Homo sapiens: one gene and its partner. The protein of the gene in region 1 purifies or fractionates together with the protein of each later gene. This does not show direct contact. Each region holds a gene or a part of one and is shown in the gene's direction. Other genes may lie near its edges. The genes, in order: NLRP4 and SUGT1.

Region 1 (16,897 bases):
CTATCCCAGGCGTCTCATGTAAGTTGAATCACATGTGGTCTTTTGCGAATGGCTTACTTTCACTTAGCAAAATGTTTTCAAGGTTTATCCAAATTGTACCATGTATCAGTACTTCATTCCTTTTCTTGGCTAAATAGTATTCCACTGTGTAGATATTCCCCATTTTGTTCTTCTAGTCCTCTAGTGATGAACACTTGGGTTGTTACCACCTTTTAGCTATTCTGAATAGTGCTCTATGAACACTCATGTGTGAACACCTGCTTTCAATCCTTTTGGACTTGTAACCAGGAGTAGACTTGCTAGGTCATATAGTAAATCCATATTTAACTGTTAGAGAAACCACCAAGTTATTTTCCTCAGTGACTGCACAATTCTGTATTCCTACCAGCAATGTATGAGAGTTCTAATTTCTCCACATCTTTGCTTATTTTTTACTTATTTACTTATATTTTATTATTACTTATATTTACTTATTTTTTATTATACCCATCCTAGTAGATGTGAAGGAGCATCTCATTGTGGTTTTGATTTGCTTTTCCTGAATGACTAATGATGAGCATCTTTTCCTGTGCTTTTTGATCATTTCTATATCTTCTTTGGAGAAATATATATTCAAGTCCTTCACACATTTTTAAAAACTTTTATTTTACATTCAGGGGTACAGGTTTTTAAACATTTAAAAATTTTAACATTTAAACAACATTTTAAAAAACTTTTATTTTACATTCAGGGGTACAGGTTTATTATAAAAGTAAATGGCACGTCATGGAAGTTTGGTGTACAAATTATTTCGTCACCCGTTAATAAGCATAGTACCTGATAGGTAGATTTTTCTTCCCCACCTTCTTCCCACCCTCTGCTCTCAAGTAGGCCCTGGTGTCTGTTGTCCTTTTCTTCATGTCTATATGTACTCAGTGTTTAGCGTCCACTTATAAGTGAGAACATGTGATATTTGGATTTATGTTCCTGTGTTAGTTTGCTAAGGATAATGGCCTCCAGCTCCATCCATGTTGCTACAAAGGACATCATCTTACTCTTTTTTATGGCTGCATAGTATTCCATGGTGTATATGTATCACATTTTCTTTATCTAGCCCACTGTTGATGGGTATTTAGGTGAATAGTGCTGTGATGAGCATACAAGTGCAGGTGTCTTTATAGTACAATGATTTATATTCCTTTGGGTATATACCCAATAATGGGATTGCTGGGTTTGATGGTAGTTGTGTTTGAAGTTCTTTCAGAAATTGCCAAACTGCTTTCCATAATGGCTGAACTAATTTACATTCCTACAAAAATGTGTAAGTGTACACTTTTCTCTGCAACCTCACCAGCATATATTATTTCTTGACTTTTTTTAATAATAGCCATTCTGACCTGTGTGAGATGGTATCTCATTGCAGTTTTGATATGCATTTTTCTAATGATTAATGAGCATTTCTTCATATGGTTGTTGGCAACACCTTTGCACATTTTTAATTGGATTTTTTGCCTTTTTGTCAAGTTGTAAGTGTTCTTTATGTTTTCTGATTACAAGTTATATACGAGACGTACTTTGTGAATATTTTTTGCCATTCTGTGAGTTGTCGTTTCACTTTCTTAATGGTGTCCTTTGAAGCACAAAAGCTTCTAATCTGATGAGATGCACTTTATTTTTTTCTTTTGTCTCATGTGCTTTTGGTGCAATTGCTACGAAACCATTGCCTAACCCAAATTCATTAAGATTAACTTCTTTGTTTTCTTTTCTTTTTTTTTCCCCCAAATTTGAGATGAGTCTCACTCTGTCACCCAGGCTGGAGTGCAGTGGTACAATCTCAGTTCACTAAAACCTCCGCCTCCTGGGTTCAAGTGATTCTTCTGCCTCAGCCTCCTGAGTAGCTGGGACTACAGGTGCCCACCACCATGCCCAGCTAATTTTTGTATTTTTAGTAGAGATGGGGTTTCACCATGCTGGTCAGGATGGCCTTGATCTCTTGACCTCATGTTCCGCCCTCCTTGGCCTCCCAAAGTGCTGGAATTACAGGCTTGAGCCACCACGCCCGGCCGCACCAACCTATATCTTAAATCTAGAAAGAACATTAAAAGCATGCATGGCCTCAGAGCCCTGCTGCAGAGGCGTGAGGAGCCATGGACTCGGTGACTTGCCAATTCCACATTTATTTCTGGACAACTCCCATAATGGCTTTCATCTTTATTCTGTTGTCTCTGAGCTTATTTTTTGTGGCAACCAGAGGTAAGGAGAGTGGTTGAGGTAATAGAAAACCACACAGTTAAACCACACAGTTGTGAGGCAACACAAATCAACTCAAGCCACCAAAAAAGGAGTCCTAGGGGACTCGGGTTCAAGGCTTCTTCCATGTTCTTTGAGGAGATATTACTTGAGCAGAGACCTGAATGATAAAGATGCATCTAACCACAGGCCAGAAAAAGAGCATTCCACTTGGCGGGCACACATGCAAAATAGCCCAAGTTGAGTAAAGGAGCCACTAGACACGAGTTTGGGGAGGATCAAACATGAATAATATCTTAGAGAATGAAACCTGTGTTGTCAAGCAACTGAAAAAGAACCAGGGTGGCTGGGACATGGGGACTTGGGAATGGGTAGGACCCTTGTGGATCATGTTGTATATTTTGGGATTTTCTCCAAGTGCAGTGAGATAAGTTACTGGGGGAGGCTAAGCCAAGCATGCATATAACTGACACTGTGCGTCTCAGGTTGGCTGTCTCTGTACCCCAGAGACCGTAAGCCAAGCATGCATATAACTGAGACGGTGCATCTCAGGTTGGCTGTCTCTGTACCCCAGAGACCATAAGCCAAGCATGCATATAACTGAGACGGTGCATCTCAGGTTGGCTGTCTCTGTACCCCAGAGACCATAAGCCAAGCATGCATATAACTGAGACAGTGCATATCAGGTTGGCTGTCTCTGTACCCCGGAGGCCATAAGTCAAGCATGCATATAACAGATGGTGCGTCTCAGGTTGGCTGTCTCTGTACCCCAGAGACCGTAAGCCAAGTGTGCATGTAACTGAGACTGTGTCTCAGGTTGGCTGTCTCTGTACCCTAGAGACTGTAAGCCAAGCATGCATATAACTGAGACTGTGTGTCTCAGGTTGGCTGTCTCTGTACCCCAGAGACCGTAAGCCAAGCATACGTATAACTGAGATGGTGCATCTCAGGTTGGCTGTCTCTGTACCCCAGAGACCGTAAGCCAAGCATGCATATAACTGAGACTGTGCATCTCAGGTTGGCTGTCTCTGTACCCCAGAGACTGGGTTGACAGGGATCAAGAACAGGGTTGGGAGGCAGTGAGCCTCTCAAGGACAGCAAATGTGGGCTTCCCGACTCTGACAGGATTGGCAAGAGGAATGAGTCCAGGAACTAGAAACCAACAGAATGTGACATTTTCCCTTTCCTGCAGGCTGGTAAATTGTCACCTCTCACCCATTGATTGTGAAGTCCTTGCTGGCCTTCTAACCAACAACAAGAAGCTGACGTATCTGAATGTATCCTGCAACCAGTTAGACACAGGCGTGCCCCTTTTGTGTGAAGCCCTGTGCAGCCCAGACACGGTCCTGGTATACCTGATGTGAGTGGATGTTGGGGGTGCCTACTGTGGAGGGCCATGGCGGCAGTTCAAACCTGGGCCTATTGATGACAGTCTGCTCATTGATGGAGGCCACATAGCGGAGGTTTAAAAGCTCACGCTTAAGAATCAGAAAAGACTTGAGTTCTAGTTCAGGATTTATCACGTATATACTGTCTTCTTAAGCAAAATATTTAACTTAGAAGCAGAGGAAAATCCTGTCTTAGAGGTCTTATGGCTATCAAGTGAGACTGTCTATACAGAACACGTACTGTGTTTCAAAGCTGTTAGGTTGGGTTAATGCACCTGCAACACACATGGTACTTCCCGTGTTGATAACGGTTATTTCGAGCATGTAGAATAGACTTGGTGGGTACTCAGGACAGTAGCGGGGAAAAATGTCTATGGGCCTCTTGACCCCAGTTAATACTATAATACATGTGATGTTCTTGCAGTAATAGGATGAGAAGAGGCTATTCAAGCCAGTTTTAGGGTACGTAAAACACAGAAGGAAGACAGATGAGTAAGTGTTAAAGGCCAATTGATTTACCTATTAATGGAATTCTAATACCTTTAGGTGATACTTATACAAAAGGGGAGAGGACAGGAGAATATATATGCATTTGTGTCTTTTTTTTTTTTTTTGAGTTTTGAGTTTTGCTCTTGTTGCCCAGGCTAGAGTGCAGTGGCATGATCTTGGCTTATCGCAACCTCTGCCTCCTGGGTTCAAGCAATTCCCCTGCCTCAGTCTCCCAAGTAGCTGAGATTACAGGCATGCGCCACCATGCCTGGCTAATTTTGTATTTTTAGTAGAGATGGGGTTTCTCCACGTTGGTCAGGCTGGTCTCGAGTGTGTCTATTTTTTAAATACACAAATATCACTGGAAGAAATAGTATTATAATATAGGCTGCCTGTGAGAAATAGAACTGAGAAGCTGGGAGATAGGGGAGGATGGAGATTTTTCCCTCTTTATACTTTTGGGCATTTTGAAATATGAACAACATGAAAGTAAGAGTATTCTGAAAATGTCAAGAAAATGAGAGGATTTATACCTCGAGCTAAAATAGAGGGACAGGGACAGGACTTAACCTCCCACCTAAAACAACCAAAAATAACCAACTAAATAAAACAACTGTTTAAGACTTCAGACATCAGGCAATGAAGGACAGTGGTGCCTGAGTGATAAGGGACAAACAGGTGAGTCCTAGAATTGTCCCAGGTAACTATCTGGAGAGAGATTTCAGGATGCAGTTCAGGAAGGGGAACCCAGATGGAAGTTGGTAGACTCTGTGAGTTGGTGAAACCCCGTCTCTACTAAAAATACAAAATACAAAAATTAGCTGGGTTTGGTGGTGCATACCTGTAGTCCCAGCTACTCTCGAGGGAAGCTGAGGCTGGAGAATCGCTTGAACCTGGGAGGCAGAGGTTGCAGTGAGCCGAGATCGCACCACCACACTTCAGCCTGGGTGAAAGAGCAAGACTGTCTCAAAAAAAAACAAAAAATAAACCAAAAAAAAAACAAAAAACAACAAAGTCCACAAATGCCTGGATATGCCAGAAAATTGAGATCCGTGAGAGAAGCAAGCTGGGTGAGGCCTCCGTGGAAATGCAGATCTTGTGTCTGTCAACAGGAAGCAGTTGCCCGTTCTGTCCTAGCCTGTTGGATTTCCATGTGGGAATGCGGCTCATTATTGCCAGATATCCCAGTTTTCAACAGAGGTTGAAATCTAGATTTTACATACAATTTTACTGATGGTTATATATTGCCAACTGATTTTGTTAAACATAAAAATGCCAGGAAATCTAAATATCCGTAGGCCATATGTGGTTCGTTCATCACTAGCTTGCACCGTCTGCTTTTTTGTTTTTCTCTACTCCACACTTTTTTTTCAAAGTCAACATGGATCCTTAAAAAAAAAAAATTCATAAACTGGCTGGGATTGGAGGCTCACACCTATATTCCCAACACTTTGGGACGTCAAGGCAGGTGAATTGTTTGAGCCCAGGAGTTCAAGACCAGCCTGGGCACCATGATGAAACCCTTTCTTGACAAAAAAATACAAAAATTAGCTTGGTGTGGTGGCACGCACCTGTAGTCTCAGCTACTCAGAAGACTGAGGTGCTGAGGTGGGAGGATCCCTTGAGCCAGGGAGGTAGAGGCTGCAGTGAGCTGTGATCATGCCACTGCACTCCAGCCTAGGTGACAGAGCCATACCCTGTCTCCAAAAAAAAAAAAGTTTTGAACCTACTGTGATTTTAAAGAATAATGAAATTGAAAAAGTTGGGGATTCTACACATGAGGTAATCAATACACTTTACCAGTCCCTGAGGGAGCGGTCTCAGAAGGTCCATGTCTTGTCCAAGGACATCATCAGATGAAGAATTAGAACCAAAATTAAAGCCCTGTTAGAGTATTAGCTATGCCATATTACACGATACTTTTTCCTTCTGCATTACCCTCTTATTTTCTAATTCTTCTATCATGCAACTAAGAAGAAATGAGAGGGCCGGACGCGGTGGCTCACGCCTTGTAATCCCAGCACTTTGGGAGGCCGAGGTGGGCAGATCACCTGAGGTCCGGAGTTCGAGACTAGCCTGGCTAACATGGTGAAACCCCGTCTCTACTAAAAATGCAAAAATTAGCGAGATGTGGTTGTGGGTGCCTGTAATCTCAGCTACTTGGGAGGCTAAGGCAAGAGAATCACTTGAACCTGGGAGGTGGAGGTTGCAGTGAGCCAAGATCGCGCCGTTGCATTCCAGCCCGGGCGACGACAGCAAAACTCCATCTCAAAAGAATAAATGAGAGGAGGTGTTTTCAGATAATCCAGAACTTCATCTCAGCTGGGGAGTTTGTAAGATTATAGAAATATTACCCTGAATGTGAAATTAAGCAAATCTCCCTGAGACACCACGTCCCTCTTCACTCTCCTTCTCGTGTTTTTGTCCCCATAGGTTGGCTTTCTGCCACCTCAGCGAGCAGTGCTGCGAATACATCTCTGAAATGCTTCTGCGTAACAAGAGCGTGCGCTATCTAGACCTCAGTGCCAATGTCCTGAAGGACGAAGGACTGAAAACTCTCTGCGAGGCCTTGAAACATCCGGACTGCTGCCTGGATTCACTGTGGTAGGCTTTTTGCTGTTTCTTTGAAGACCAAGCCGTCTTTTCAAGGGCATGCACTGCTGAGAATGGGGCATCTGGAATTGAGGAAGGCTGTAGTGTCTGTGCCTGGGCATGTGAAGGTTTAAAAAATACTTGCTTCAGATTCTTGTCGAGACGTTCATGTAAACAAATCAGCACCCTGACTTCTGTGGCATGGATTTAATATGTTGCAAAGAGTTCTCCAGTGGCATATAGGTAGAGGACTGAGAGAGCCGGAATTAGGTCGGGACCTGAGGGGCAATTTCATGGCGAAGATGATATTTGGTGTGTGTTCTACAAAATGAATGCACTTCATCAGGTGCAAAAATAAAGCCAAAATTCCAGGTAGAAGGGTAAAACGTGAAGGTGGGAGATCCAAAAATACACGTGAGAATTAATGTGTGTAACAGAGAATGCTTTAGAAGAAGACAAAGGGTAGCATGAGATGAGCCAGAAAGGAGATGGTGAAAAGACTTAATTTCATGTTATCAAATAGAGAAATATCTGGGTAACCCCTGTAGCGGCGGTGGCAGTGTTTTTAGAATTACCAGTTAGGATAACATGTTGTTATGTATTTTCCCTGAAAAATACAGAGGCTTCTGAAATCTGGCAGCGTGATTTTTACCTAATCCATTAGGAAATCAGTTTAGGATTTTGTATTCCTCACTTGAAGAGTATGTTAAATAACATAACAAAAACACCAGATGCATTCTTTCTCTCCCAGTAGTGCGTTAGGCTATCTGGGCCAATCGTTGGCACTGAAAGACACCAAAAACATCAGATACAATATTAAGAAAAAATTTAAAAGCATCTAGAAGCTAAACAGAAATAATCTTTTTTTTTTTTTTTTGGAGACAGAAGAGTCTCGCTCTGTCAGCCCACGCTGAAGTACAGTGGCACAATCTCGGCTCACTGCAAGTGCTGCCTCCCGGGTTCACGCCATTCTCGTCTCAGCCTCCCAAGTAGCTGGGACTACAGGTGCCCGCCACCACGCCTGGCTAATTTTTTTGTATTTTTAGTAGAGACGGGGTTTCACTGTGCTAGCCAGGATGGTCTCAATCTCCTGATCTCGTGATCCGCCCGCCTCGGCCTCCCAAAGTGCTGGGATTACAGGCATGAGCCACCGTGCCCAGCCCAAACAGAAATATTCTTAAGTAGCAGGCTAAGTAGATAGCACTTAAGGCTATCCAAAACTCCTTAAGACGTATTAAAAAAACACAACATAACCTTAAACTAGTACTGAACAGATGCCTGAAAGAAACAAGAGCAAATTGTCTCAGGAGGTAGGTAATAGGATGACATGATCCTTGACCTCAGCTTATTCCTAAAAGGATTTTTTAAGGTCAGTAAATACCACACAGTTAAAATAACCCAACCCACAAGGAAATAAAGCTCATTGAGCCAAGGACAAGTCAAAATACAAACAGCTACCAAACTATCTAATTATCTATAAAGCTATTATACTTACTATGTTTACAGAAAAATAACAAGTTTGAATCTTAGGGAAAAGGAGATGAAATGAGCAAATAATACAACTAGAAATTATAAATATAATAACTGACTATATGGGGTGAATAGTAGATTAGACATAATTAAAGAAAAAATTAGTAAAATGGAAGATAGGTTACAATTACCTAGAAAGCAGCATGAAAACAGAAAAATAGGTAAATCATAGAAGAGGGTATAAGACTTAGATGATTAAGATGTTCTAACACACTTACTGGGAATCGCGGAAAGAGAAAATATTTTAAGAAGACTGAAATTTTTCTGTAACCAATGAAAGATTCCAATTCAGATTCAAGCATCCAAATAAGCGCTTAACAGGATAAATAGTGGAGAAACTGCAGAACACCAGATATAAAGATGTTGGTCTGTAAAGATTTAACAAGGGGCTGGGAGCTTGGGGCGGGGGAAAGTGATATCTACAAGAAAGGAGACAGACTTGGGTGAAGAGTAATAGTGGAAACCAGAGGGCAGTACAGTGAGATATTCAGTATGGCGGGGAGACGGGAGGGTGGATTGTCAACCTAGAATTCTATAGCCACCAAAAACTATCAAGAATGAGGATAAAAACACATTTTCAAATAAATACCAAGTTTCTTACCACCAGATCCTTCCTAAAAGTAATTCTAAAGACTGTTCCTTAGACAGAAGTAAATCATTCCAGATGGAAGAGAGATAGAGCAAAGAGAGGGGTAGATCTCTGGATAAATCTAAACAAAATGTGGATTGTGTATAAAAATAATACCATCTTGAAGATTTAATGGAAAAAATATACAACAGCCATAACAAAATATAAAGGGGTAAATTAAGGTGAATACTCAAATTAGCAGAAAAGAGGAGACAGAATGATTAAAAAATTCCCGATCCAAAAAAGAACAAGGAAACAAAAATTGAACAGGTAAGAAAATATGAAACAAGATATATATTTGAATTCAAATATGCTAGTAATTAAACGAACAGATTAAATGTTTCAGCTAAAAGATTGCCATATTAAAACGTAACTAATGTTTATAAGTTACTTATTAAAACGTGAGGTTGTGGTTGTACAACATTGTGAACTGTAGTAAGTGCCACTGAACTGTTCACTTTAATATAGTTAATCTTAAGTAAATTTTACCTCAATAAAATGATGAAAATGAAAGGATAGAAAAAAAGACCACGCAAATATTAAAAGGAAGCTTACGCAACTGTATGAATCAGACAAAATAGAATTTAAGACAAAGTATTATTCGGTTCATGCTAATTTTTAAATTATCTTCCTACTCAGTTGAACTTTAAATCTTACAAGGTGAACATAATTACTTCCCATATAGAGTCCAGGAATCTAAGAGAAATCATAATGGAAATTAGAACATATGTTGAAATGAAAAAGGAATATACTTTGCAACAAACTCAGATGGAGCTGTAGTGCATGTATATATTTTAAAAGGAATCTAAAGAATAATGAACTTAAGGATTTTTTTAATGGTAAAATAAACCCCCTAAAGGATGGAAGGAAATAAAAATAAGGACAGAAACTAATGAAACAAAAATCACAATGGAAAAGATCAGAAACCTGCAGGGTGGTTCTTGGAAAAAACAGTTTTTGTTAATGCCATCCTATAGAATATAATGCAAGCCACACATGTAATATTAAATTTTCAAGTAGCCATATTAAAAGTGATGTAATATTTGAAAGTAATTTTATAAGTAAATATTTGAAACTAATTTTAATAATATAGTTTATTTAGCCATATATCAAACATCACTTCAATATGTAATCAGTACAAAAAATTACTAATGAGAGATTTTACTTTTTTGTATTAACTCTCTAAGGTTCACTATGTATTTTATACTATGGCACATCTAGATTCAGACAAGCTACATTCCAAGTGCTCAGTGGTCACACGTGGCTGGCTATCACACTGAAGAGTGCAGGTCTATGTCAAGAATGGGAAAAGAAACATTACTACAGATGCTACAGATATTAAAAAGATTACATATGAGCAACTTTACACAATAAACTTGAAAATTTAGATATTTTCAAGACTCAATAAGCTTCTAAAATGATAGAACCTAAATGTACTCAAGACAAAAGAAAAATGAATCAGTCAAATCTTTTTATATAGAAAATTCCAGGCTTAGAAGCCTTCATTGGTGATTCTTACCAGACATTCAAAGAATAAATAATTCCACTCTTACATCAGCTTTTTCAGGATCAGAAGAGGAGAAACTCCCCACCATTTTTTGTGGCTAGCATAATCTTGATGCCAGAAACCAATAAGAATTTTATTGGTTGTAATATAATCCTTACAATTTTTGTAAGAAAGCAGAATTAAAGGCTAGTGTCATTCATGAAATGCAAAAACACTGAACAGAATATTAGCAAGCAGAATCCATAAATGTATTAAAAGAATAAACATAATGACTAAGTTGGGCTTATCCCCAAAATGTAAAGTTGCTTTAACATTAAAAAGATTAGTAAAAAAATCAATGTAAATCACTTTACTGGTTAAAAATAAAAATCATGATCTAAAATGCAGAAAAGTTTGAATTAAGACATACAATTCTTGAAAAACTATTTGGGAACTTCCTTGATGATCTAAAGAATATGTTCAAAAAAATCTAAAGCAAACATTTGTCTAATGATGAGAGAAAAGCTTTCTCTTCAATATCATGAAAAAGATAAGAACGGTGGCTATAATCACTTCTAGTCAACAGTGTCCTGAAAATCTTAGCAAATGCTTCAAGGTAAGAAAAACACTAAACCTGTAATCTTTGAAGAAACACCTAATTCTATACAGATGATTTGAATGTACATAGAAAAATCCAAGAAAATCTGTAGCTAAGTTATCAGAATTAGTCTAACAAGCTTGCTTGAAACAATATATCAAAAACAGTTACTGATATACCAACAAGAAGTAATAAGCTAGTGGAATTAAATAAAAGTACCTTTTACAGTAACATAAAAAAGAAATTACCTAGAAATAGCTACTGTGATATATGTGAGACTTTTATAGAGAATATGATCAAATTATGGTATAAAACAATGTTATATTCAAAGATTGAAATATTCAGTATCTAAAAAGTCAGTTTTCTGTAAGTTGAATTCATTTGCTTTCATGAAATCCCAGTGAAAATGCGATGTTTTTGTTTGGTGATTGAGTTGAACTTGAAAAGTAAATTTTAAAATGTGTATGGAACTTGCAAGAGGCCAAGAATACCTAAGAAACACCTAAAATATAAAAAGTGGGCCAGGCGCGGTGGCTCACGCCTGTAATCTCAGCACTTTGGGAGGCTCAGGTGGGTGGATCACCTGAGGTCAGGAGTTCAAGACCAGCTTGACCAACATAGTGAAACCCCGTCTCTACTGAAAAAAAAAAAAATACAGAATTAGCTGGGTATGATGGTGGATGCCTGTAATACCAGCTACTCAGGAGGCTGAGGCAGGAGAATCACCTGAACCCGTGAGGCAGAGGTTGCAGTGAGCTGAGATTGTGCCGTTGCATTCCAGCCTGGACAACAGGAGTGAAACTCCGTCTCAAATAAAAATAATGTAGGAACTCTTGCTCTAAATGTGTCATCTAAAGTTTTAGAAATTAAAAAAGCATGAGATTCACACAGGGATAAGCAGACAGACCAGAGACACAGAATAGAGATCTCAGAAACAGACTGATCCACGTGTGTTCAGATGTCGCATCATGGAATAGCGTATCACTGGTGCAGAGAGAGGATAGACCTCCAACAAACGATGCTGAGACAATTCAGTTGTCCCTCCATATCCATAGGAGGTTGGCTACAGATTTCCCCTGAGGAGTCCAAAATCTGTAGATGCTCAAGTTCCTAATGTAAAATGGCATAGTGTGTGTTTTGAGACAGTCTCTCACTTTGTCGCCCAGGCTGGAGTGCAGTGGTGCGATCTCAGCTCACTGCAATCTCTGCTTCCCGAGTTCAAGTGATTCTTGTGCCTCAACCTCCTGGGTAGCTGGGACTACAGGCACGCATCGCCATGCCCGGCTAATTTTTTGTATTTTTTGTGTTTTTTTTAGTAGAGATGAGGGTTTCACCATTTTGGCCAGGCTGGTCTGGAACTTCTGACCTCAGGTGATCCACCCACCTCAGCCTCCCGAACTGCTGGGATTACACGCATGAGCCACCGCATCTGGCCTATATAGTGTTTGCATATAATGTACAGGCATCTTCCCATAATACTGTAAATCATCTCTAAGTTACTGTGATATGTAATACAATGTAAATGTTGTGTGAACAGTTGTTATACTCTATTGGTTTTTTCGTTTGTATTTTTTAGTGTTGCGTGTTATGTGTTATTGTTTTAATTCTTCAATAATTTCAATCTGCCACTAGTTGAATCTGTGGATATGGAGGACTGACGGTGCCTATCCACATGAATGACAAAGGCTGTCGTGCTTTGGTGTCTCTTTTCCTGATATTAGACTGAGGTGTAATAGCCTTTAAGCATGGTACCCTTACTCCTTTGCAGTTTGGTAAAATGTTTTATCACTGCTGCTGGCTGTGAAGACCTCGCCTCTGCTCTCATCAGCAATCAAAACCTGAAGATTCTGCAAATTGGGTGCAATGAAATCGGAGATGTGGGTGTGCAGCTGTTGTGTCGGGCTCTGACGCATACGGATTGCCGCTTAGAGATTCTTGGGTGGGTATCGCCAAGCTCCTGGTTATGTTTTCATGAGTGGCAAAGACGGAAAATGGATGGGAAGAAAGAGAAAGATGAAAACTCCAACAGGACCACATAGCAGCTAGCTGTGGTTGCATCATGAACCAGTGTAAAACTTCAGGGCTTAAGGCAATGAGAAGTTAGATTGCTGCTGGCTCTGCTTGTCTGGGCAGGCGTCACTGACCTCAGCCAGGTGTGCTTAGGAAGCTGTGGTTAACTGAGGGATTGGCTGGTTTGGGTTGACCTTGCTATATGGTATGGAGGTTGGCTGGCTGGGTTGGCTGTCCCCTTGGGGATGACAGGTGTAACTGGGCCACGTCTCATTATCTAACTGGTTGGCCTGGGCTCATTGACATGGCATCTGTATCAGTTTGCCAGGGTTTAAAAAGTAGCATGGACTGGGTGGCTTAGGTAATGAATTTATCACTTCACGGTTATGGAGGCTGAAAGTCTGAGATCAAAGTGTCAGCAGAGTTGGCTCCTTCTGAAGGCCATGAGGGAGAATCTGCTTCAGGCCCTTCTTGTCTTGTCGATAACCATCTGTCTTCTCCCTGTGTCTTCATGTTCTCTTCCCTCTGTGTGTGTGTGTCTAAATTTCCTCTTATAAGAACACCAGTCATATGATTAGAATCCCCCCAGTGTCCTCATTTTAGCTTAATTGCCTCTATAAAGACCTTGTATCCAAATATGATCACATTTTGGGGTACTGGGGTTTAGGACTTCAACGTATAAATTTTGGCAGGGACAGAAATGAGCCCATAGCAGCATCTCAGGAGTTCAAGAGATGAAGTATAGAAAACATCCAAGATCACCAGGTGTGATAGCTTAGTCCTGCAGTCCCAGCACTAAAGGAGCCTGAGGCAAGCCAATAGCTTGAGGCTAGGAGTTCAAGAACAGGCTGGGCAACATGGTAAAACCCCATCTCCATAAAAATTAGCCAGGCGTGGTGCATGCCTGTAGCCCCAGTTACTCAGGAGGCTGAGGAAGGAAAATTGCTAGAACCCAGGAGGTCAAGGCTGCAATGAGCCATGATCATGCCACTGCACTTCAGCCGGGATGACAGAAACCCCATCTCCACAAAAATTAGCCCGCAGGCGTGGTGCATGCCTGTAGTCCCAGCTACTCAGGAGGCTGAGGCAGGAAAATTGCTAGAACCCAGCAGGTCAAGGCTGCAGTGAGCCATGGTCATGCTGCTGCACTTCAGCCAGGATGACAGAGACCCCATCTCCAAAGAAGAAAAACACCCAAAATGGTGGCTCAGAACTCTCCTAATCTTGCTTCCATTGTTATCTGAGACGGCTTCATACCTTTTTTTGGATAATATGTTATATTATCCAAAGCAAGGTATGAAGCCGGAAATAGACTCTGTTAGTGGAATGAGCTGCAAAGTCACATTGCTGTGGGCAGGGATACAGAGAAGAATGGACACTTATGGCTACTTTTACCACCTACCCACAGACGCGTGATCTGAGGTCGTAAACACTGGACTGTGAGAGATTGCACTTGAGGCAATGGGGTGTGCCTCAACTAGACGTCTAGCTCACATCCCATCCTACCTCCACCCTGAGGCTGGGGCCGCATCTTACCATGTGTCTTTTTATTGCAGGTTGGAAGAATGTGGGTTAACGAGCACCTGCTGTAAGGATCTCGCGTCTGTTCTCACCTGCAGTAAGACCCTGCAGCAGCTCAACCTGACCTTGAACACCTTGGACCACACAGGGGTGGTTGTACTCTGTGAGGCCCTGAGACACCCAGAGTGTGCCCTGCAGGTGCTCGGGTGAGCTGGGGTCTGTTGTGCTCTATGGGCAGAGTGCTCCGGGCTAAGAAGGGATTGGCTGGGACCTGCAGTGTAATCACGTTGCATTTAAAATGCAAATGATGTTCCTTGTCTCAGGGTTGTTGCAGGAGTAAGAACCAAGCAGGTGAGTATAAAACTCTTACCACAGTAAGTGGTGAACAGTGAATGTCCAACAAATGGAAACACTTGTGAAGTGGCCTCATTGTCTGGGGTAACACCCGAGGTTCATTGTCCCAGGGCCGTGGAGATCCAAGGACGCAGAGATCCAAGGACGCAGATACACAAAGAGTGAGGTTAAGAGCAGAAGTTTAATAGGCAAAAGAAAGAAGAGCTGTCTGCTACAGAGAGGGGTCTCGGAAAAATGGATTGCCCGATCCATGGTGAAATGCAGAGGGTTTTATAGACGAGCTGGTGGGAGGTGTGGTGTCTGATCTACATAGGGCATGAAAAACTGGTTAGGACCAGGTGTGCCGTTTGCATAGGGTGTGAATTTCTGGCAGCCCCCACCCCAGTCTTTTATTAAGCAGGCAGGTTCTCTGCCTGAGCTGCACTATGTTGCCCATTTCTTTCTTACTGTACCCATGCTAATAAAAAAGGGAAGATGGTGCTTCCATGGTGAACAGGCCTGGCCCCCAGGTAGCTCTTTTCACTGGCGCAGCTGCTGGCATTCCCCCCATGCAATCTTCGCGCTCCCTTATTTATGTTTGCAGCTCAGTTTTTCAGGATGCTCTTTGTTAGAAAAGAAATGATTTCTTGGGCTGGTTTTTGTTAGAAGGGAAGCTCTGCTGAGGACTTTTGCCCTCACTATCTGCCTAAATAATTTTTTACCTCCTATATCACTTATTATTATAATACAAATTATGATACATGTTTATATTTTAAATATTTATGTGTAAATACAAGTTATATGTATATTCATAAGTATAACATTTATAAATAGAAACTTATATAAACATAATTTATATTTTAATTTGTTATATTTATAATTACATATAATCCCACAAACATTATTTTACTAGATAACTATAGAGTCCTTAACATTTTTCTCATTCATTTTCCCCTACTGTTTTCAAACCAATATGAGATGAAGGTAATCATAGGCAGTTATTAGGCTGTTCATTTCCAGAAAAGGGAAATATAATGGGTTAAAACTGTTATAACTCTAACGCTAAAGAACATTCACTGATTTTTTTTTTTCCATTTTGTGAAGATACAGGTTTGTTTTCTTGAAGTCCATCCTTATAAATCTCCACCTGGAAAGGCTGAGTGCTTGGCATTGTTTCTTTCTCATTTTAATGTTTGCTAAAGATTCAGAATGTAGACTACCAAAGTAGACACGTGATTAAGGGGAAGGACTCAAATTGTCTGCATTCTGAGTCACGGAGGTCTGTGTTTGTCTCCTAGCCTTGCCATGTTTGGCCCTGTAAGCCAGGGTAAGGCATTTGTCCTCTTTGATTATCAGCCTCCTATCTACAAAATAGGGATGATTATTTGGCATGGTAATTATGAAAGTATGCATCAGATAATGTGATAACTATGGCAGAACTAAATAAGTGAGTTTTCATCTTCCTCCAGCCCCTACCATAGATAGTCTCACAAAGATGTGTATTAAGATACATAGTTGTGCTAAAGAACATAGCTTACCCCAACAGTGTGGGACAGTTGCACGCAAACAGATGCCAAATGGAGATGAGAGATATTATACGTAAAAGGAAGGACCAAGACACGGTGATACTTAATCCTTCTGATTCAAAGCAATGATACAACGTATGGGGGCTCCAGAAACAAATTGCTTGAATTTGTATCCAGACTACCACTTTCTGGTTTTGTGACCTTAACATTGTTCTCATTGTCTTCATCACAAGTCGGGACAATTATGCTACCTCATAAGGCAGTTGTGAACATTTAATGAGATAGGCATGTAAAAAGCCTTAGCAGAGGGCCAGGGCCCAGGTACTCGGATAATGGAAACTATTAACTTTATCTTTGAAAAAGTAAAAATAGCTTCAGTCTTTCTCCCTAACTCCCACTGACTTCTTGTTGCAAATCCAAATGTTTGTGTGGAGTTCATGCCTTCTATTACCAATTCTGGACATTTATTTATGTCCAGTGACATATTGGAGCCAGCTCCTACAAGCTGGTGAGAGCCACGTGTGTGTGTGTGTGTGTGTGTGTGTGTGTACCTGTCTTTGTAACTCT
Region 2 (16,897 bases), on another chromosome or scaffold:
AATTTGTTTTAAATATATTCATGCAGAATATGTGAATACCATGAAAAAAACTATGCTGCTGCCCTAGAAACTTTTACAGAAGGACAAAAATTAGATAGTAAGTATTAAAAATTATACTTTAATAAACTTATCTATTTCTGTCTTAAATACCAAAGCTGAATTTTGGTAATGTTAATTTCAAGTTAATTGTAGAAACCCAATACCTGTTTTTCTCATCTAAATTATATTTCATATTGATTGCAGATATGAGATCACTTAAAATCGATTAAATTAGCCTTTTGGCATTTAAATCATAGATGAACTTCACCATTAGAAGTAAAAAAAACTATGGAAACACCTAACATGCTCTCTCTGTTTAGTCTGGCTTTGTTTTTTTCTAATGGAGAAGTGAAAGTTTAATTTGCCTTGGTCAGAAGTCTGTTCATTTTAAATTATTCAGATTGCTGAGATGTGAAATCTTAACATTAAAGGTTTTTATGGAGAAGTGAAGTGTACGTTTGGGTAAATTATGAGAGGGTACAGAAGAAACACAGTTTTGAGAGTATTGTGACTTTTAATGTTATATTCTTGAGGGAATATATGAAAAGTATCACAGTGGTGTGGATATCTAGACATATAGAAATTGTGAGAGTCAAGAATATATATATATATATATATATATATTTTTTTTTTTTTTTTTTTTTTTTTTTTTTTTGAGACGGAGTCTCACTCTGTCGCCCAGGCTGGAGTGCAGTGGCGCGATCTCGACTCACTGCAAGCTCTGCCTCCCGGGTTCACGCCATTCTTCTGCCTCAGCCCCCCGAGTAGCTGGGACTACAGGCGACCACCACCACGCCCGGCCAATTTTTTTGTATTTTTAGTAGAGATGGGGTTTCACCATGTTAGCCAGGATGGTCTCAATCTCCTGACCTTGTGATCCACCCTCCTCGGCCTCCCAAAGTGCTGGGATTACAGGCATGAGCCACTGCACCCAGCCGAGAGCCAAGAATTTTTAAATCTGAAAAATACTAAGAGGTTGTGAGTAATTTCAGAAAATTGGAGACTACATAATCCTACTTGTATTATCATTTTATCTTTATGTTATGATAGAGTTTTATCACAGTTCTCTAAAGAAGTGGTTCTTAACTGGAAACGGTTTTGCTTCCCAGGAAACTTTATGCAATGTCTGAAGAGATTTTTGATAATCATGAATGGTGGATGGGGGTTGTGCTACTGACATCTAATGAGTATAAACCAGGGGTGCTACTAAATATTCTATAATGCCCAGGACAGTTCTGCCTAACAAAGAAGTATATGGTCCAAAATGTCAGTAGTGCTGAAATTAAGAAACTTCACTCTTAGTATTTTATGTTACATTCTTACTCTGTACTGTTTTGAATGTTTGCCTTTCTGTTGTGTACCTATTCAGAAAAAAGGATTTTAGCACTGATTATGCAAATGGAAGCTACAAATTAAAAAAGGAGAGGTCTGGGTGATAAGGCTTATTCTCAAACTTGCTTATCCCAGTTTTGGTATGTGAATAGTAGGCCTATTCAGTCAGCAAACAGGACATCTGCACTCTTAGCAAATTCTAGAGTGAAGTTATGTAGTGCCTTGGTACCTAATGTGAAAATCCTGAAGAAACATGAGTCATACCATTCTCTACATTTTCATTTTTCTTTCTTTTTTTAGCGAGAGAAGGTCTCGCTCTGTCGCCCAGGCTGGAGTGCAGTGGTGCGATCTTGGGTCACTGCAGCCTCCACCTCTTGGGCTCAAGTGATCCTCCCACCTCAGCCTCCTGAGTAACTGGGGCTACAGGCACATGCCACCACACCTGACTAATTTTTGCATTTTATTTTTTGCAGAGATGGGGATTTGCCATGTTGCCCAGGCTGGTCTTGAACTCCTGGACTCAAGCGTTCTGCCTGCCTCGGCCTCTGAAAGTGCTGGGGTTACAGGCATGAGCCACTGCGTCTGGCCCCTAGATTATTTTCTTGAGTAATATCTTAATATCATGCCATTGACATTTATTCTTTAGTTATTTCAGAGGTGGCCTTCAGAGGAAGACCTGTTTGGTAAAATTGCTGTTGAGGATATTTTACTTAAAAATAAATTTGTCTTTAAATCCAGGAAACTTTTTTTGTTGTTGTTTTTTGGGGTTTTTTTTTGTTTTTGTTTGTTTGTTTGTTTGTTTCTTTTTTTGAGACTGAGTCTCACTGTGTTGTCCAGGCCATAGTGCAGTTCTCTGTCTCTCAAGTTCAGGTGATTCTCCTGCCTCAACCTCCTGAGCAGCTGGGACTACAGGCATGCACCACCAAGCCTGGCTAATTTTTGTATTTTTAGTAGAGACGGGGTTTCATCGTGTTGGCCAGGCTGGTCTCCAACTCTTGACCTCAAGTGATCCACCTGCCTTGGACTCCCAAAGTGCTGGGATTACAGGTATGAGCCACCATGCCCGGCCAAAATCTGGGAAAAAGTTAAGTTAAACTTTTAGGCTTCTATTTTTATCAGACAGGGTAAAGAATTGTTACCTTTTCCCCTCTTTGTGTGATAAATTGCTTGGTTTTAGTTACTGATTACTTAAAATAATAGGTTACTCAAATCTTTTTGATATAATAGATTTTGATACAATAGTTCTCTAGAATACAGTGTGTGTGAGAGTGTATTTAAATTTTTTATTAATGCTGGTATAGTTGGATTTCTTTTATAAATTAGTAAAGTAGAAATTTTTGTTAAGAAATTTTTAATTTAAGATTTTCAAATTTATCTTGTCTGCAGTTAACTTGAATTAATAAGCTCTTATTTAGAGTACTTTTAATACTTTTAACATATCTTACTATGCACTGTGACTGTTTAAATGTAATCATTGTTCTGTGTCTCCAGAAGTGAATAATTTGTTTATGCATACATTTACACTGTTATCTATAAATATATAATACATCACCTATAGCCTCTCGACTGCCATGTAACTTGGAGATAGGACAAAACTTCACGGAATTTAAAGATGCTTGGTGTTGGTAGGAAAGGCATGGTAACAGATAAAGCCACTGAGAGAATAGTGGACTGAATAGGTATCTGCATTGAAGAGCAAGCTGGGGCTGGGAACGGCTTTTGAACCTCAACTCAGCTCCCAGTTACCAAGCCTCCTCCCCACCCTAACTGATGGCATATTGGGAGTCTGATTTACATCTGATTTTGTTCTGTGTGTGAGGAAGCTTCTCTAAGAGCAGCGGGATTGGGGGAAATGCAGATTATTTGTATCTGTGAAATTAAGGTTGACTGTAGTTAAAATTTTTAAAAAATCAAAATGTTTCATGATTAACAACTAAATGTTAAACTATTGGTATATTTATAACTATAGTAGAGTTGGTGATAAGGTCTGTTAAGACAGGTTTTGTTCGCTGCCGACTCCCCAGTGCCTAGAACACTGCCTGGGATGTAGTAGGTATTCAGTAAGTATTTGTTGATTTATAGGTTGTGCAGATGAGTGATGTTATAGTCAGTTTTTTCTTTCTAGGTGCAGATGCTAATTTCAGTGTCTGGATTAAAAGGTGTCAAGAAGCTCAGAATGGTATGTGGGTCTCCCTTGGTATTTGTTTCAATTTAAAAAGAAGTAAACATCTGAAATTTTTTTGGTTTAAACAAATTTGTTTTTATCTTTATAATTTCTTTTAAATAGTATACGTTTCCTTAGATGTGGACTTCCAAAGATACACTGGTTTTTGCATAGCTTCTTATGTTGAAAGGGGGATTTGGGTGGATTTGCTTGTATGGTATATCAGTAAGAAATTACTAAGGAGTCTAAAATGAATTCAGGATGCAAAATGAAACCACTTTTCTTTAGTTGAAAGGTACGGAGAATTTGCTTGCTTAATCAGTATGTTTGTGCTATAGAAATCATACAAATAACTTTGCTTAAAAATGCACTGTTCCCTGAAAATGTTTCCTTTTTATGTTTTAATAGGCTCAGAATCTGAGGTGGTAAGTCCAAAGTTTTCATTCTTCATGTTTTTATTATTTTAAATTTCAGCTACCAAATATATTTGAGACAAGACTCAGGATGAGCTGTCTGATATTTAAATATTAAGCAATTCCATTTAAGTGCTGGTTCCTCTAGGCACTGAAATAAAATCATTTTTTGATAAATATAGAAGTTTCCAGTCATGAAAATTATTGGCCTATTTTAATGAATTTAGTGTGTGGTTAAAGTTGATTTCGTGTGTTTTAATATGGTCATGATGATCATTTATCTTTTCGTTACTAAAACCTTATTGCATTTATTTAGGTTCAACAGTTTGAATCACTTGTAGGGCTTTTTATGATAGGCTAAGACAAAAGTTAAAGAAAATTGGAAATTGACAGGGTCTTGCTCTGTCATGCAGGCTGGAGTGCAGTGGTGCCATCATAGTGCACTTGAGCTTCAAACTCCTGGGCTCAAGCAATCTTCCCACCTCAGCCTTCCAAGTAGCTGGGACTACAGATGTACACCACCAAGCCTGGCTAATTACTCTGTTTCTTTAAAACGATTTTTAAAACAATGTTATTTTAGTTTAGGAAGTTGCTGAATCTTAGAACTGGCCATTTTATATAAGCAACCTTTTCTAATCATGCCTTTAGAAGTTTTCTGTTATTTAAAGTTCTGTTATTTTAGAGCAAAAATCTTTTATGAAATTCAATCTAAGATTTTTTAAATGCTGAGCATTCTAATTTTTTTCCGAAAACTAGTGGTATTTAACAATTACAGTTACTATGTCTTTGAAGAAAATTTTCATGTAGTTATTTTATATCAAAATAACTGCAGTGTTGGGTAAATTAATAATACATGCATTTTAATAATACAGTTGCTAAACTGACTTGTAAAAATCTTTCTCTTTCAACTTACCAAAATCAATCTGCATCCCAGTGGACTCATCAGTCAAAAATCAAGTGAGTGTTTCTTTTTCATAAAACAATGCATGATAAATATGCCTAAAGAGGAAGAAACCCTGTAGTTTAATAGTAAGCAAATTCTTACCATGTGATTTTTAAGTTTTTGTTTGTTTTCTAAAATTGTGTAATAGCTTTATGTAAAGCCAATTTTAAGGCTGTTTAAGGATTAATATTTGTACTTCAGTTAAATTCAAATCATTTCTCATCTTTAAAGTTGCTTCACTTGGTTTCATATTATGTTACCTTTCCATATGTTAAGGAGAGTCTCTTCCAGTTAAGTTTATGTTACTACACAGGTAAACAAGTTAGTAGTAGATCTAACAGAATTGTAACTTAACCTGCCTTTTATATTTGGAGCAAATTTTTCATAGGAACATTCTGTATGCGTTGAAAGTTAATATTGCTGAGGGCAGCAATTATAATAATGAATAAGCAACTAGCAAGTCTTTGACTTTTAATTATTCATTAGCCTGTGTACAGCTTGTATTCTTAGGACCGTAACAGAAACACAAGCCGTTGATCTGGAGCTTTGCATCCTTACTGAATTGCAAAGGGAAACCGAGACTCTTAAAGTTCATTTCTTTAATCAAGGTGGTTTTGGATATAATTACCTAAAATGGCCTGGAAAAGTTAAAAACCATCTATTCATGGTAGTTGTGGGGAGATACAGGATGAAACTCCAAGTACCTAGTAGATAAGGAACTTTGACTTGCCCTGGTGGCAGCAGCAGGGGTAGGGCACATAACCATGAAATAATAATTAAGGTGTTCAGAGCATAAAATAATCCCACATCTAACTTAATATACGTGTACCGGACACTGTGCTTGGTCCTAGGGATATAATAGCGACAGGATAAACAGCTCTGCCCTCAGAGAGCTTTTAATCTAGTCTAATTTGAAAGTGAGGATTCCTACGTTTCTAGAGCTTTCAGTACAAAAGATGCACATAATTAGAATCTAGACCCATTAGTCTTTCCATGTATCTTGAAATTGAAGGAAAGTGTTGTATATGATGTTGTGCCTGACACAGTTAAACTTCATATGATTTTAATTTTAGTTCATTTGCCCCTGTTTTGTGTGCTCAAGTCTATCTGCTTCCAACATCAGTTTTGAGAGCTTGGAGTGTTGACTCAGGCTTATTGCTTCACCTTTCTGAGCTTAAGTTTTATCATCTGTAAAATAGGGATTTAAGTGTTTATCTGTAGTATTTGGATGAAATGAGAGTATAAAAACTCTATTGATGGCATATAAATATTAGCTTGTTTAAAATAAATGACATCTTTAATATTTATATTAGTTTAAGCACAACAGTGCTAGAGATGAGTCAGAACCCAGAAAATCATGCAAGTATTTAAGTCTACTGGAAAGGTGTGAGCATCATTTACCTTACCATTTTTTTCCATTAGTACAGAGCATAAAAAACTAGTTATATAAAGTTGTTTCTGTGAATCAGTAGTTGCTTTGCTGTTTTCTTCCTCCAGGTGGGGCTCTTGTTGTTTATCAGACTAGTTTTTGTTTTGACAATAGCTTTAAAAAAATTAGAAGAGTTACCTAAGTTTCTTTTTTTTTTTTAATAGGTATGACTGGTATCAAACAGAATCTCAAGTAGTCATTACACTTATGATCAAGAATGTTCAGAAGAATGATGTAAATGTGGAATTTTCAGAAAAAGAGGTCAGTAGACTGAATCATTTTTCAATGTTGATTACTATTATTTGCAAATTTAGTATATTGCAGAATAATCGATAACGGTTTATCAGATAAATGCTATTTCTTCCTGAGATGATTTGGAAAATGTTGAATAAAATCTGAAGCCATTGCTTTGAGGTAAGAATATGTATGTTGGTAAATTATAGCTGGATGTGCATTTTTTTCTTTAGATTTGAAATTTAAAGCAGAATTTGGTTATATTAGTAAGATAATGTGCTTTGGTTATACTTGTGTGGTGTACTTCATGAAAAAGATCTAGTTAGTTTTGTGATCACACATGTCTTAGAATTGACTAGCCATGTTAAATGAGTATGACTTTTTTTGTTGTTGTTTTTTGAGACAGAGTCTCGCTCTTGCGTAGGCTGGAGTGCAGTGGCGCAATTTCGGCTCACTGCAGCCTCCTCCTCCTGGGTTCAAACAATTCTCCTGCCTCAGCCTCCTGAGTAGTTGGGACTACAGGCACATGCCACCGTGCCTGGCTAATTTTTGTAGAAACGGGGTTTCACCATGTTGGCCAGGCTGTTGTCGAATTCCTGACCTCAAGTGATCTACCCATCTCAGCCTCCCAAAGTGCTGGGATTAGAGGCATGCACCACCGTGCCCAGCCTCTTGAGTATGACTTTTAACAACTTGATTTCTTACCATTTAGTAGAGAACCTTATAATAGATTATTTAAAAGAGGTAGTGATAGAACTGTATGTTTTGCACATGGATCACTTTTTGTTATATATCATTTTGCTTTTGTATGTTTTCTTGAAATCTAAATATCAAATAGGTGTGATTAAATATATGACAAATATTATGAAACTTATTCTTTTCTGCTGTTTAATGATGTCTATAAGAATTCATGTCAAGGATACCAGATGGAAAAAAAAGGTTCTTAAATCTTTGAGAACCTTTTGAGGTTCTTAAATCTAAAATTCCATATATAATGTTTAAAATAATTTGTAACATTATTGAAGATTTGTCATTATTTTGTGTAGGTTTTTTACCCTCCATTATATACATTTACAAAATGTGATGCTAATTTTGTGTTCATTAGTTGTCTGCTTTGGTTAAACTTCCTTCTGGAGAGGATTACAATTTGAAACTGGAACTTCTTCATCCTATAATACCAGAACAGAGCACGTTTAAAGTACTTTCAACAAAGGTAAGACCATTGAAAAGTTTGTTACTAGTAATATTTTCAAAATTATAGAAATACTGGTGAACTAATCACCCATGTGTTTATAAGCTTGTAGATTCTTTCAGCCCTTTAACAGGGACAAGAAAATAAGAATGATAACTTTTGAGTATAAGGGTTATTTTACCTCTCAAATTCTAGTACAGTAAAGAATAAAAATCCACTTAGAGTGTGTGGCATTTGTGTATTTACTAAGACAGATATAATGTTTTTCAATAAAGGGGTTTTTTTAAAAAGATACAATAATCAGCCTGTCTTTAAGATTTGATACTGACAATGTCTCTTCCCTTGAACTTGTCAGTTTTGTCTGTTTTGATGTACAAATACTTTTGTCACCCTACCTCATGCAGTTAAAAATACAAACTACAAGAAAGATGAATCTGCCTTTTGTTTTTTTTGTTGTTGTTGTTGAGACGGAGTCTTGCTTTGTTGCCCAGGCTGGAGTGCAGTGGCGTGATCTCGGCTCACTGCAACCTCTGCCTCCTGGATCCAAGTGATTCTCCTGCTTCAGCCTCCCAAGTAGCTGGGACTACAGGCATGCACCACCACGCCCTGCTTAATTTTTGTATTTTTAGTAGAGATGGGGTTTCACCATATTGGCCAGGCAGGTCTCCAACTCCTGACTTTTTTTTTTAAACTGAATTTTAGATTACTCTATTATGAGGGAACAATGAGTAAATTATAGTTTGAGTAATTTTTAGATTCCTTTATAGTTTCTAAAAGAAGTAGAGATATACAACAGAATTAATATTCAGAGAGTATCACTCAAAAGATGTAGATAATAGTGTAATTTAGTAGGAAAAAAACTGAAAATTTAAAAATCTGACTCTGGATCTTTGCTTGCCCTGTGTATTTAGTCTAGGCACAAAATGACTATAAGACTGAATTTTCAGCACCTTTGAAAGGAGGGCTGTGGACCAAATGAACTCTGGAGTCCTTTCAGCTGTAGAATTGTGTGAAGGTATATGATAAATGAGTTAATGGGAATAAATGATGTAGGTAGGCTTTTTCCATTACTACTTTTTTTTTTTTTCCTTGTTTTTGAGATGTAGTCTAGCTCTGTTGCCAGGGTGGAGTGCAGTGCTGTGATCTCAGCTCACTGCAACCTCCGCCTTCTTGAATCAGGTTCAAGTGATTCTCCTGCCTCAGCCTCCTGAGTAGCTGGGATTACAGTCATGTACTGCCACGCCCAGCTAATTTTTGTATTTTTGTAGAGATGGGGTTTCACCATATTGGCCAGGATGGTCTTGATCTCCTGACCACGTGATCTGCCCACCTTGGCCTCCCAAACTGCTGGGATTACAGGTGTGAGCCACTGCACCTGGCCTATTACTCCTTTTTTTATACATAGGTCCTGCAGCATACTGTGTTAGTATTTATTAGGTTGAAGCTCTAAGGACATGTGAAGTTTCCTGTTGTGGAACAGGATCGGGGTTGGCCTGTGTTGTGAAGAATGATAATTGGGCCTGCAGAAAGGACACAGCTGCAGAGGGTTGGAGAAGAAAGTGTAAAGTGAAGTAGTTTTTTGCATCCAGTTAAAAAGGATCTGCCTACTTATTTGAAGATTGTCAAGAACAAAGCTGGTTAATTATGAGGCAGATTTTTGAAATAGCTGCTTGGGACAATAGAAAGTGAGGAAAGGGATGAAATCTTACCAGGATTTTGGTCTCTCACTGGTCCTATCCACATAGTATAGAATTTGTTTAATAAAAGAATTTTTAGTAATCAAGCACAAAATAGGTAGATTTGAGAGGGATATAGTTCATAAAATAATGAATTTGACTTTTTTTGGTATATGTCTATCGAGATTGCTAATGCAAGTGAGCTGAGATCACTACGTTGCACTCCAGCCTGGGCAACAGAGTGAGACTCTGTCTCAAAAAAAAAAAAAAAAAGATTGTTAATGCATGTCCATTTGGAGTTATTTAAATTGAGTGTGAATTAATGATAAATGACTTAAGAACTTGTATTACTGAGCCACCTCCTATAGTGGAAGAATATCATGTGTGGTAAATACATAGATGTGTGGCTAGAGTTGAGGATGTAATTAAGCACTCTTATCTCAATTCTTTTTTCTCTTTTGAGTCTTGGATTTGTTAATTTTAACCATTCTTCAACCATACTACTATGTTCTCAGTTTGCCTTTTCTGCCCCTTCCTCTTTAAATGCTAAGTGACGACTTTTCTTCCTTATATAGTAGTTTATGTATACATTTCATGTCCCTCGTTTCTGTGTAAGTCTTTGAGGATAAGAAGCATGTTTTATTTGTATCTTTGTATGTGCCCCAGTTAGGGTCCCCAGATAAAGTTACAAGATGTTCATTTAAGTTTCTATTTAAGATAAACAATGAATAATTTTTATTATGTAAATATGTTTCATGCTATAATTTTATTTGCTAAACTTGGCAGCCCTCACCACATACATTGCACAGTGGGTGCTTAGTTCAGTGAATGAATTAAAATTGGATTTTGGTTTTAGTCCCATGACATTGGCAGAGAATGTTTATTCTTAGTTTTGCAGGTGGAAAAACAATCATGTTAATGGAGTTTAAATACTTTCCCCAAGTTTACCTAGTTAACTAAATTCTTCAGCCTGGCCTAGGAGACGTAGATACACTTCTGATTGCCAACCAAACTAGTGCATCTTTGCTTAGGTTTTTCTAAGTTTTGAATTGGAGAACTTAGATTCTAAGGATGTGTCCTAAAGAATTATTATTTTTCTTGTCCTGACCCTGGAATCTCTGTATTTTATATACCATATATATATATATGTGCACACACAAAATCTTGTTAGATTACTAACTCTTAAACTATTTGGGGGGAAGCAAATTGAAAGAAGTTTTCTTAATTATGTCTTAAGGGAAATAAATGATAAAATCTTTGAATTTCCTTTTTCATACAGTAGAGGGAGACAATATTAAAATACTGAAAATAAAATATCTGGGTTACTGAGGCTTACTTCGTGGACACTTAAGAGACAACAGTACTAAAATAATTTGCTTTTCATGTATTCAGATATCTTGATTGTTGAGATATCTTGGACCTTTGTGAATTGAGAAAGGACGCATTTTGCAGAGGAGAATCTGCTTAATAGTAGAGATTCTGTAAAATTTGCAGCTTAAAAGGGCGATTTCTTTGCTTTTGGGAATTCTCTTTTCTTTCCCACCTTCAAGATTGAATGAATGTTGCATATCCATGTATAGCCAGTGGTTAAATATTATTTATTTGAGTGATATGTAATTTGTGATGAAAGTAGTAAGAGGTAAAACCCTGAAATTAATGAAGTAGCATTTCTTAACTATTTTACAGTGTAGTATCCAATATGTTTTTCCAAGCCAGGATTCATATTTTTTCAGTATCTCTGATAGTTATTGCTACTTTTTACTGAATATCAGCTTTAATGTCAGCCTATTAATTTTTTAGAAATTAAGAAACTATATGTCTTTCATCTTGTTGATTTCATGACACTATTCTCTGGTCACAGTCTCAGAATTGTGACTTTAGTGGCACCCATATTGTGAAATACTCATTTTAAAAATTAATTTTCATTCCCTTTAAGATTTAGAATTCACAAGTCGGGCACGGTGGGTCATGCCTGTAATCCCAACACTTTGGTAGGCCAAGGCGGTCGGATCACTTGAGGTCAAGAGTTCGAGAACAGCCTGGTCAACTTGGTGAAAACCTGTCTCTACTAAAAATACAAAAAATGAACTGGACGTGGTGACGGGTGCCTGTAGTCCCAGCTACTCGGGAGACTGAGGCAGGAGAATCGCTTGAACCTGGGAGGCGGAGGTTGCAGTGAGCCGAGATCATGTCGCGCCACTGCACTCCCGCCTGGGTGACTGAGTGAGACTCCGTCTCCAAAAGAAAAAAAAGAATTAGAATTCTCAGTCTTTTGGGGTGAATTTGCCCTTGTGGAAATGTTCTTGTATTCTTAAGTCATAGTTAAGTCATAGTAATTTTGCTGATTATACAATATAAAATACGAAGGCCTGGAATTGTGAGAAATAAAAATGTCTGTCTTAGAAACAAAATAGCCTCCTTTTCTCTTCTCCCACTTTGAGAAGTTTTAGAGCGTATCCTATTGCTTAATGTTCATAGAAGAATATATGTATGTTAAATAAAAATCCTGGTGATAATATAATGGAATGGGGTATCTGGGCATGATGCTTCCTTCTGCTTGTCTGAATACATAGATATGAGAGTTTTTAAAATTATTGTTTTCTTTTGCTTTTTTAGTACAGTGGTGGTGATAATAGTGAGATTTCTTTTTTAACTGAATTAGTTTAAAAAAAGATCACAAATTGTAGATCTTGGAATGTATTCTTATCTTTTCATATATTTTGTAATGTATATTTATATATTTTTAAAAGAATTTTACATAATTTTTAAACAGCTACATTTTGTTGATATTTTTATCACATCCTTACATATTCAACAGCAAAGTATTTCGGCATATGCATGTACTGTAGCTTATTTAGCCAGTCCCATTTTGTTTGACCTGTGGAGAATAAGAATAGGTGTTTTGACTGTTTTATCACATTCCAGGCACTGTACTATGAATTATCTCATGTAATTCTCATAGTTACTGCATGGTGTAGGTATTTTTATCCCTAGTTTACAGGTAGAGAAACTTAACCCAGAGATGTTCAATAATTTGCCCAGGTTTTTTAGCTGAGGATATTGATAATAGCATTCTGTTGTTATTTGCCAGACGTGGTTCTTTATTCTTTTCATACATAGTGTCATTTAATCTTCTTGAGAACCCTAAATGAGTCAGGGCCTACTGTTCTCATTTTATAGGAGAAACTGAGGCTCGCTGAGATTGAGTTGCTTGCTTATGGTCATATATCTAACCAATGGCACCTATTTGTGACTCTTCTAACTATACAACTGATTGTTTTTGTGTTATTCTCAACCCCTGGTTATTTCTTAGGAAATAAGTTAAAATTCTAGCTGAAAAATGCGCTTACAGCAAATTATTTCATATCTTGGCTCCCACATCTCTAAAATATGGATAACAATCTTTTTTAATAGGGTGATTCCGTTAAGTAAGATGATATATGTGAAGCATGTAGCATGCAGGATATGTAATAAGAGCTCAATAAATGTTACAGTACCTTTCTTACTGTTTTATTTTAGTTATTTCGATTTTTATTCGGGCTGTAAACTCAGCAAATGCGTTATCATAGAAAATCTGGAAAAGATAAAGGAGTTTAGGAAGTAATCACTCAGACTCACCACTCAGATGACATTCTAGCATGTTTCCTTTCAGATAACCTGATATTTCCTGATACATAGGTCAGTCACTACACCTGACACATACTGGAATCTTTTTGTTTATGGGAATGTCTCTCCTGATTAATTACTTTAAGAAGAACAGAGGCTGTGTCCTTATGTACCAGCACTGTTTCTGGCACAGAGTAGGTACTCAGCAAATATTTGAAATGAGCTGTTAGAAGTTTGGAGAAGACCTTCAATCTTCTCCATTCATTGCCATTTTTTTGCATTTAAAAAATGATTATAGAAATATTTTAGTGTAAAATCAAGGTAGATGTATTAGTCTGGGCTCGAAGGCAGCTATTTTCAGACAAAGGAATTTGATGTAGCAATTAAATGTGAAAAGAGCTTAGTAAGAGTATGTTGGGAAGGCTGTATTCTGAAGATTAGGGGAACAATTATTTAATGAGTACAGTCTTGAAGTGTATGGTTCTTAAAAGTTTGCCAATAAATTGCCCCAGCTCTTTAGTCTCTGGGAAAGATCCCTTCATGTCAGTCTGTAATAGTAGGTGGGATCTTACTTACCACTTAAGATGGTGGTGTCTGGATATCATGATTGCTTAAGCGTAATGCCATCTCTTTAAATCTGAAATTTCTTTCATTGGAAAGAATTAAACTCTCTGCTATGCAGAGGAGACTTCAGAAGTGGATGGTAGTACCTATGCTGTTGAGAGCTAATGATCCAGCACATTAGGGATTCTTAGTGTAATCTGTGAATACTCTTTTGGGATATTAGCAACTTGAGAGCCTTCCCTGTACATATGAGAGCAACATTCAAGCAAACTACCAAAGTTTTAAGTTACTTTTAAAGTTTTTTTGACTTAAATGAAAATAGAATGGTATGTTAATGGTTGCAGTAAAAACCTCTGAAATTGGACTGGTGCTAATTCTAGAACTATCTGCCCGAATCATGAAGACTTAAAACTTCATTTTTAAAAGCATGTACAAACATTGAAAGTGAATTAAATGTAAAAAGGATTTCATAGGACATTAGTCCCTCCCTTCTTTTACTTTTTTTTTTTTTGTGTGGGGGTAGATAGGGTCTCACTCTGTTGCCCATGCTGGAGTGCAGTGGAGTGATCATGGCCCACTGTGGCCTCAACCTCTTGGGCTCATGTGATCCTCCCACTTCAGCCTCCCAGAGTGCCAGGATTACACGTGTGAGCCAACACACCTGGCCCCTTTTACCTTTTTAAAAAAGCTACTTTAAGTGGTTTATTACATGCAGCTATTTTAATGAATGGATTAAGTATAATTTCAAGTTGAGGTCAGCTTGTCTCAGCTGAAGCAGGTTGTTACTAAGAGCTTTGCCTTTTGCTTTATAAAGTCCTCTTTGTTCATACTGCACAGTTACTCAGGTTATAGTGGCTTTCAGTAGATGCGAATGCTACTCTGTGCTGCTCTTCAGGTGAAACAAGGAACTTTTTATAGACAGTATGTTCATAGTTACAGGAACATGAAGTGTGAATATAGGGTGGCCTGTGGCCAAGTTTAATGTGGTGATGTACACAGTACTTTCCAGGCCCTCATTTTTTAGATGAGTTGAAAATTAAAGAAGATGCAATTTTAATTTTTCAGATAATATTAACAGTTCTTTTCAGTAACTATTGCTGTGTCATTGCCATCTATTTGATTTATGTCCCTTTTGATAAATATCGTAGCAGTGACAACTTAAAGTAACCAGAATATAGAAGATATTGGTGGTATATTACTTTATAAAAAATTAATTGTAGTTAACTTTAGGGAATTCTAGAGATTCTTATGAAATATGTTTTTATATATGTAGAGTTTAAACATGTAAATTACACCAAAGATAGTATACTTTTTTTTTTTTTTTTTTTTTGACAGAGTCTCGCTCTGTTGCCCAGGCTGAAGTGCAGTGGCACGATCTTGGCTCACTGCAGCCTCCGCCTCCCAGATTCAAGCAATTCTGTCTCAGACTCCCGAGTAGCTGAGACTACAGTCACATGCCACTATGCCTGGCTATTTTTTGTATTTTTAGTAGAGACAGGGTTTTGCCATGTTGGCCGGGCTGGTCTTGAACTCCTGACCTCAGGTGATCTGCCTGCCTCGGCCTCCTAAGGTGCTGGGGTTACTACTCTTTGCCCTTATCCCAGTGACGTTTGCTTCATATTTTTCTCTTATTATGAAAACAGTCGTTTATTACATTTCTTTGCTCCAAAAGAAAATAAAAATAAACGCTTGAGACCAGATACCCCACATACATATACCATCATTTTATCTCTGATTAAAAATATTGGCAGTTTTTCCCTGTGTTAGCGCTTGTTAAGGTATTTTAAGGTGCAAATTTTGAAGGTCCTTTTGCTAAATGCATTTGGTATAAAGATGGCCTGGAATTGCTAGTTTAATGAGTCATCTGATAAAAGATAAAAGAACCAAAGGGTGAATAGACTTCTTTTTTTAAGTCTGCCTTTTGATTTTTTAATCCCATTTACAAAAGTAGTGATCCTTTTCATAGGAAAAAAACATGAGAATATAAAATTCTAATTCAATTGCTCATTTAAACTGTTTTATATAATGTTTATTATAGTGCTTACTTTAATATTTGCACTAAAAATGCTGATATTAGCCTGTTAAAATAGAGGTGAGAGCATTATTTGAATAAAGAAAACAAAAGGTAGATAAAATGCTATGTGATTGTGTGTGTTGGGGGCAAGGATAGACTCAGAGGCCTAGCCTTAATTAGATAGTAAAAGATGCTATTAGGATACTATTAACTTTTCATTTTAATAAGTGAACTTAGTCTTCTCGGTAAGTAAGTGAACTTAGTCTTCTCAGTACTCCCCGATGCAGTGTCCTTTCATACCCATGCTCCAGTTAGGCCATTCCCTATGCTCTGGAGACCTACCCCTTCACTCTTGCAAATGCTTCTACCCTTCAGAGCCCTTCAAGATGTATAAAGCGTTTCCCCTTCACAGTCAGGTGTGCTCTCTCCTGAGCTTTTAGAACATTTACTTATTTAGAACTTCAGTAACTTTCTTAAAGTATCTCACATACTTCCAAATGGTCGAGGATGTGTCTTTAATATTTTAAAAATCCACCTGGGCTTGGTGGCTCATGCCTGTAATCCTAGCACTTTGGGAGGCTGAGGTGGGAGAATGGCTTGAGGCCAGGAGTCTGAGACCAGCCTGGGCAACCTAGTGAGACTCTGTCTCTACGAAAAATTTTAAAAACATTAGCCAGGAGTGGTGGCACTTGTCTGTAGTCCCAGCTACTTGGGAAGCTGAGGCTGGAGGATCACTTGAGCCCAGGAGTTCAAGTCTAGAGTGAGCTATGATCCTTCTACTGCACTCCAGCCTGGGAGACAGAGCAAGACCCTGTCTCTAAAAATAAAACAAAAATCTCCCACAGCCTTGAAGACTGTACTGTCTCATAGTAGGTGCTTAGTAATTATTTGTTGAATGAAAGATTGCCTGAATGTTAACATGAGTTGTATTGTGTTTATACAGTGAAATAAGTTTCTCCACTGTAAAACAGGTTAATGCACATGTAAATGCAGTAATTCTTTTAGAATCAGATTTCTCTGTAATGGCATTATTGACATTTTGGGGAATTGCCCAGTACATTGTAGGATGTTTAGTAGCAACCGTGGTCTCTACTCAATAGATGTCATTATCACCTCTTCCCTCACTGCAGTATGACAACCCACAATGTCTCCAGACATGGCTAAATGTCCCCTGGGTGGCAGAATCATCCCTGGTTCAGAACATTGCTTTGGATGAAAAAAAGCATATGTATTTCAAGTCTCTTCTTGATTATAGCTTATATATAGTGTGTATGTTGTTTTTTTTCAAGGG

Evidence for each region.
Region 2: the proteins of NLRP4 (region 1) and SUGT1 purify together in Homo sapiens (affinity purification with western blotting; 2 studies listed by BioGRID and IntAct, with this or other methods). This does not show direct contact.

The regions. Positions count from the first base shown.
Region 1 is NC_000019.10:55,864,288-55,881,184, forward strand, and holds part of NLRP4 (NACHT, LRR and PYD domains-containing protein 4), read left to right. Parts: intron 1-3,421; coding exon 3,422-3,589; intron 3,590-6,539; coding exon 6,540-6,710; intron 6,711-12,708; coding exon 12,709-12,879; intron 12,880-14,506; coding exon 14,507-14,677; intron 14,678-16,897.
Region 2 is NC_000013.11:52,659,153-52,676,049, forward strand, and holds part of SUGT1 (protein SGT1 homolog), read left to right. Parts: intron 1-26; coding exon 27-97; intron 98-2,322; coding exon of another isoform or gene 2,323-2,418; intron 2,419-3,496; coding exon 3,497-3,550; intron 3,551-3,943; coding exon 3,944-3,960; intron 3,961-4,882; coding exon 4,883-4,905; intron 4,906-6,484; coding exon 6,485-6,581; intron 6,582-7,659; coding exon 7,660-7,767; intron 7,768-16,897. UniProt on the Homo sapiens protein: May play a role in ubiquitination and subsequent proteasomal degradation of target proteins.